2 linked regions of the Homo sapiens genome follow. The protein of the gene in region 1 interacts with the protein of each later gene in a biochemical or structural test. Each region holds a gene or a part of one and is shown on either strand. Other genes may lie near its edges.

Region 1 (3,500 bases):
GCCAGATATCATTTGGTATCAGGATGATGCTAGCCTCATAAAATGAGTTAGGGAGGATTCCCCTTTTTTCTATTGATTGGAACAGTTTCAGAAGGAATGATACCAGCTCCTCTTTGTACCTCTGGTAGAATTCGGCTGTGAATTTGTCTGGTCCTGGACTTTTTTTGGTTGGTAGGCTATTAATTATTGCCTAAATTTCAGAACCTGTTATTGATCTATTCAGAGATTCGACTTCCTGGTTTAGTCTTGGGAGGGTGTATGTGTCCAGGAATTTATCCATTTCTTGTAGATTTTCTAGTTTATTTGCGTAGAGGTGTTTATAGTATTCTCTGATAGTAGTTTGTATTTCTGTGGGATCAGTGGTGATCCCCTTTATCATTTTTTATTGCATCTATTTGATTCTTCTCTCGTTTCTTCTTTATTAGTGTTGCTAATGGTCTATTTTGTTGATCTTTCAAAAAATCAGCTCCTGGATTCATTTATTTTTTTTTTTGAAGGTTTTTTTTCTGTCTCTATCTCTTTCACTTCTGCTCTGATCTTAGTTATTTCTTGTCTTCTGCGAGGTTTTGAATTTGTTTGCTCTTGCTTGTCTAGTTCTTTTAATTGTGATGTTAGGATGTTGATTTAGATCTCTCCTGCTTTCTCTTGTGGGCATTTAGTGCTCTAAGTTTCCCTCTAAACACTGCTTTAAATGTGTTCCAGAGATTCTGGTATGTTGTGTCTTTGTTCTCATTAGTTTCAAATAACTTATTTCTTTCTGTCTTAATTTCGTTATTTACCAAGTAGTCATTCAGGAGCAGGTTGTTCAGTTTCCATGCAGTTGTGTGGTTTTGAATGAGATTCTTAATGCTGAGTTCTAATTTGATTGCACTGTGGTCTGAGAGACAGTTTGTTGTGATTTCTGTTCTTTTACATTTGCTGAGGAGTGCTTTACTTCCAATTATGTGGTCAATTTTAGAATAAGTGGGATGTGGTGCTGAGAAGAATGTATATTCTGTTTATTTGGGGTGCAGAGTTCTGTAGGTGTCTATTAGGTCCGCTTGGTCCAAAGCTGAGTTCAAGTCCTGAGTATCCTTGTTAATTTTCTGTCTCCTTGATCTGTCTAATATTGACAGTGGGGTGTTAAAGTCTCCCATTATTATTGTGTGGGAGTCTCAGTCTCTTTGTAGGTCTCCAAGGACTTGCTTTATGAATCTGGGTGCTCTTGTATTGGGTGCATATATTTTAGGATAGTTAGCTCTTCTTGTTGAATTGATCACTTTACCATTATGTAATGGCCCTCTTTGTCTCTTTTGATCTTCGTTGGTTTAAAGTCTATTTTATCAGAGACCAGGATTTTTTTTTGCTTTCCATTTGCTTGGTAGATCTTTCTCCATCCCTTTATTTTGAGCCTATGTGTGTCTTTGCACGTGAGATGGGTCTCCTGAATACAGCACATTGATGGGTCTTGAGTCTTTATCCAGTTTGCCAGCCTGTGTCTTTTAATTGGGGAATTTAGCCCATTTACATTTAAGGTTAATATTGTTATATGTGAATTTGATCCTGTCATTATGATGCTAGCTGGTTATTTTGCCCATTAATTGATGCAATTTCTTCTTAGCATCGATGGTCTTTATAATTTGGCATGTTTTTGCAATGGCTGCTACCGGTTGTTGCTATCCATGTTTAGTGCTTCCTTCAGGAGCTCTTGTAAGGCAGGCCTGGTGGTGACAAAATCTCTCAGCATTTGCTTGTCCGTAAAGGATTTTATTTCTCCTTCACTTATGAAGCTTAGTTTGGCGGGATATGAAATTCTGGGTTGAAAATTCTTTTCTTTAAGAATGTTGAATATTTTCCCCCTACTCTCTTCTGGCTTGTAGAGTTTCTGCCGAGAGATCTGCTGTTAGTCTGATGGCCTTCCCTTTGTGGGTAACCCAACCTTTCTCTGGCTGCCCTTAACATTTTTTCCTTCATTTAAACCTTGGTGAATCTGACAATTATGTGTCTTGGGGTTGCTCTTCTTGAGGAGTATCTTTGTGGTGGTCTCTGTATTTCCTGAATTTGAATGTTGGCCTGCCTTGCTATGTTGGGGAAGTTCTCCTGGTGAATATCCTTAAGAGTGGTTTCTAACTTGATTCCATTCTCCCCATCACTTTCAGGTACACCATTCAAACGTAGATTTGGTCTTTTCACATAATGCCGTATTTCTTGAAGGCTTTGTTCATTTCTTTTCACTCTTTTTTTTCTAATCTTGTCTTCTCGCTTTATTTCATTAATTTGATCTTCAGTCACTGATATCCTTTCTTCTGCTTGATTGAATCAGCTACTGAAGCTTGTGTATGCTTCACCATGTTCTCATACTCTGGTTTTCAGCTTCATCAGGTCATTTAAGCTCTTCTCTACACTGTTTATTCTAGTTAGCCATTCGTCTAACCTTTTGTCAAGGTTTTTAGCTTCCTTGCAATGGGTTAGAACATACTTCTTTAACTTGGAGAAGTTTGTTATTACTGACCTTCTGAAGCCTACTTCTGTCATCTTGTCAAACTCATTCTGCATCCAGTTTTGTTCCCTTGCTGGCGAGTAGTTGTGTTTCTTTGGAGGAGAAGAGGCGTTATGGTTTTTGGAATTTTCAACCTTTCTGCTGTGGTTTCTCCCCATCTTTGTGGTTTTATCTATCTTTGGTCTTTGATGTTGGTGGCCTACGTATGGGGTTTTGGTGTGGATGTCCTTTGTGTTGATGTTGATGCTGTTCCTTTCTGTTTGTTAGTTTTCCTTCTAACAGTCAGGTACCTTAGCTGCAGGTCTATTGGAGTTTGCTAGAGGTCCACTCCAGACCCTGTTTGCCTGGGTATCACCAGAGGAGGCTGCAGAACAGCAGATATTGCTGCCTGATCCTTCCTCTGGATGCTTCGTCCCAGAGGGGCACCCACCTGTATGAGGTGTCTGTTGGCCATTACTGGGAGATATCTCCCAGTCAGGCTACACAGGGGTCAGGGAACCACTTGGATAACAGTCTGTCCCTTATCGGGAGCTGAAACGCCATGCTGGGAGAACCATTGCTGTCTTCAGAGCTGTCAGGCAGGGACGTTTAAGTCTGCAGAAGCTGTCTGCTGCCTTTTGTTCAGATATGCCCTGCCCCCAGAGGTGGAATCTAGAGAGGCAGTAGGCCTTGCTCAGCTGTGGTGGTCTCTGCCGAGTTTGAGCTTCCCTGCTGCTTTGTTTACACTGTGAGCATAGAACTGCCTACTCAAGCCTCAGCAATGGCAAACGCCCCTCCCCCCACCAAGCTCCCACATCTTAGGTTGATCTCAGACTGCTGTGCTGGCAGCGAACAAGGCTGTGTGGGCGTGGGACCCGCCGAGTCAGGCATGGGAGGGGATCTTCTGGTCTGCCTGTTGCGAAGAGCATTGGGAAAGTGCAGTATTTGGGCAGGAGTGTATCGCTCCTCCAGGTACAGCCACTCATGCCTTCCCTTGGGTAGGAAAGGGAAATCCCCCAACCCTTTGCACTTCCCAGGTGAG
Region 2 (3,500 bases), on another chromosome or scaffold:
CCACTCGACAGCTGTGTTGAAGGCCCTTCTCCCTCCCATTCCTTTCTGCATCACAGAATTCCCTCCACTTGCATTTATGACATCTCCTTAGGAGCATGTAATCTCCAAAATCAGGACCAAGAAGTTCCCAGATGGGGGCAGGGGGTGTCAGGAAACAGGCAATTCCAGAGCACTGGCAAGAACCCCGCAGAGGGGCCAGGCCAGAGGTGGGGCCTCACCCCAGCTCTCCCACCCAAGGCCCGCATTGTGCCATTCACTGGGCTACCTACTCATCCATTCATTCATTCACTCATTCATTTTCTTTCATTCTTCGAGCACCTACACTGCCAAGCACAGGGTACAGAGCAGGCATGAGGCCCTCAGGGCCCCTCAATCCTACAGAGCCCCAGCTAGTAGAAAAGGTGGCATTAAACAACTAAGGTCACAATGAGCTCCTTCCTGAAATTGCACAATGGGATGCTGTTAGAAAGGAGGAAAAAAGCTATTAGGCTAAGTTTAACAGGGGATCAAAGGATGAGAGGATGAGCATGAACTGAGGGGCTGGAGAAGAGGAAGGTAAAGGGAGGCCATTCCAAGGAAGGGGAACAGTGTGTGCAAAGGCCCCGAGGTCAAAGGGGACTTAGAGAGAGCTAGAAAGTAAAGCAGGTGGCAGCTGAAACTCCACAAACACAGCAAGTGCTATCAGATGAGGCTGGTAAAACAGAGGCCAGGATCAGGCAGGCCTTCCAGGGCCCTGAGACCTTAGGATCCTAAGAATACAGGAAAGTCATGCCAGGGTTTCAAGCAAGGGAATGAGAGGTACAAACCTGCTTCTGGTGGAAACCTGGGAGACTGTTTGTAGGATGGGCTGTAGCAGAGCCCGCTCAGACCCCGAGGGTCAGTCCCCACCTTGAAGAGCTTACATGTGAGTTAGAAAAACAAATGCCCCTAAATTCTTCTATTGCAAAGCATATTTATCAACTTGCCAAGGACTTAAAGAGTACTTTTCTTTCCAATGAAGATATCTAAATGTTTTCAAATTACTACTGTAAAAAAGTAATACACGCTTACCAAAAGAATCTCTACAATACCACCATGTATAAAAGAAAAGTGTACCCCGTCTCCTCACCTCTGATGGTTACCTTAGAGACCCATGTACTTAAAACCAGGAGTGGCCCGGGGACTGCTCCAGACCCCGCCTTTCCCTCTTACACTGCACACTTCTGCCTGTCTACACATGGAGGATGCCACAGTGCAGAAATGCCAGCAGGTTTAACAAGTACTCCTTTTATAAATAATGCAGCCCCGACCTCCACACACGTCTGGATATCTACACACTTATCTTCTTTCCTTAGAATAGATTTCAAAATGTAGAACTGTGGGGACAAGGAGAATGGCATTTAAGATTTTGACACTTAAGACTTTTCTAGAGAGCAATTCGGTAATCACTATTTTATGTTTATACATTACATATATAAACTTTTTTGGGGGGGACAGCCCAGGGTCTCGCTGTGTCACTCAGGCTGAAGTGCAGTGGCAAAATCACACCTCACTGCAACCTTGACTTTCCAGGCTCACGTGATTCTCCTGCCACAGCCTCCCAAGTAATGGGGACTACAGGCACACGACGTCATGCCTGATTTTTTTTTTTTTTTTGTAGAGATGAGGGTCTCACTATGTTGCCCAGGCTGGTCTTGAACTCCTGGGCTCAAGTGATCCTCTCACCTTGGCCTCCCAAAGTTCTGGGATTACAGGCATAAGGTACCTCGCCCAGCCCTATTATATTTTATATAATAATACATATGGGTCTCTCCAGAGAGCAAATGATAATAAATAACAGCCAACATTTATATCATGCTTACTACATGCCAGGCCCTATTCAAGGAAATTTCCATACATTAACTTAAACTTTGCAAAAACCTTACAAAATAGAAATTATTATTATGACCAGCAACAGGTATCATCAAACTCGCCAATATGATAGGCATAAAGGGAATCTCCTTCACACTGAATTGATTAGTAATGCTAACCTTTCATCACTGGCACAATGATTCAATGTTCATACGTTCTGCTCATCTTGCAATGGTGATCTCATGCTCTCCTTATTGGTCTGTAAAAGCTCTTTATATATTGACTGTTAAGCTTACACAGGCATAATGTGGTATGTATTTTCTCTCTCGTCTCTTAGCCCGGCTGACGGAGTCTTTTGCCAAAGAGATTTTTTAAAAAACTCTTATCCTATTAAATCTGTCAAGATTTTCTTTAAGGTTTCTGGGTTGGTATTGAAAGAGTAGATTAACTTGGTCCTCAAATGCTTTCTTCCAATAAAATCTTCCAAGGTAATCAACAGACCGAACAACAAACACTAAAAGCTGCTCCGGCTGAAGTGGACTTGGAGCATTAGCTCCCTTCCGTCACCCCCACCTGCCTCCAGGCGTCCTGGGGACTTTGCAGGAGAAGAACATGATGTCTTCTAGTTCTGCAGTCCCACACGTGACATAAGACAGCATGAGAAAGCCAGAAGTACTGCCCAGACCTATGAAACGCGCCTGTAACAGCGCCAAGAACAGTCAACACAGCACTAGAAAGTCTAACGACACTGAACTAGAAAGGTATTCCAAATCGTCCTCTTCTCTAAGAGGCTGTGTTCGCCCAAGCACCTCGACAAGCTGAACTTCAGCTTCAAGGTCACCACCAGCCTAGAAGCAGAGGCACGGAGAGGAACTGGCCTTTGGGACTGGAGATGCAGGGGGTGGCACATGGTCCATTTCATTCTACCCCCAGTTCCTCCAGAGGTAGAGCCCACCTGCAGGACTGTGCTGACACCTACATGGTGAGTGCATGAAACAGCACGAGCCCCAAGCAGGTGCTCATCTGGCGTCAGCTACGGGAGCACGTGACAGCTGCTCGTGGCATCATCTCCTTGCTCCAGGATACATCCTCATCCCCCGACAGTGATACAGGAAGTCACGGTGGGGGCAATCTATGCAGGACCCCGACCTTCCTTCCAGGAAGTGAGTAGGAGGTGTGTCAGCAAGGCCACAGCAAGGGGACATGTAGGACCCTGACCCTCCTTCTAGGAAGTGAGTAGGAGGTTTGTCAGTGAGGCTGCAGCAAGGGGACATGGCCATTTAATGCTGCAGGCACCATGGCCCTCATGCCACCCCAAAACAGGTCCCACTCTTCCCACGCACAGAAGCCCAAGAGAAGAAAACTGACCGTATGAAGAGAACTTACTGACCTTAGTGACACTTGTTCCCACAGAAACGCTTATGAATGAGTTAAGGTCTGTTCAAAGGTAGCATCACTTTTGACATGGCACCCCTCATCTGACCTGAACCAGAAGGTGCAGTACCCGCCTCTAACGTCAAGGCCAAAAACCCAGAGCCCACCACACGGCAGGGCATATGCTGACCACCTGAAATCAAAACAAACACTCCCTCCAAATCCATCCTTTCCGACTCCTTACCCCAGGACAGACTGGGGGCTGCCAACAACAGGGCAGGGGCTCAGTCTCGGTT

What was found. The genes of interacting proteins can lie anywhere in the genome.
Region 2: of the proteins of GSK3B (region 1) and HDAC4, one has a biochemical effect on the other in vitro, tested with the Homo sapiens proteins (one study listed by BioGRID).

What each region holds. Positions count from the first base shown.
Region 1 is NC_000003.12:120,003,948-120,007,447, reverse strand, and holds part of GSK3B (glycogen synthase kinase-3 beta), read left to right. Parts: intron 1-3,500. UniProt on the Homo sapiens protein: Constitutively active protein kinase that acts as a negative regulator in the hormonal control of glucose homeostasis, Wnt signaling and regulation of transcription factors and microtubules, by phosphorylating and inactivating glycogen synthase (GYS1 or GYS2), EIF2B, CTNNB1/beta-catenin, APC, AXIN1, DPYSL2/CRMP2, JUN, NFATC1/NFATC, MAPT/TAU and MACF1.
Region 2 is NC_000002.12:239,394,521-239,398,020, forward strand, and holds part of HDAC4 (histone deacetylase 4), read right to left. Parts: intron 1-3,500. UniProt on the Homo sapiens protein: Responsible for the deacetylation of lysine residues on the N-terminal part of the core histones (H2A, H2B, H3 and H4).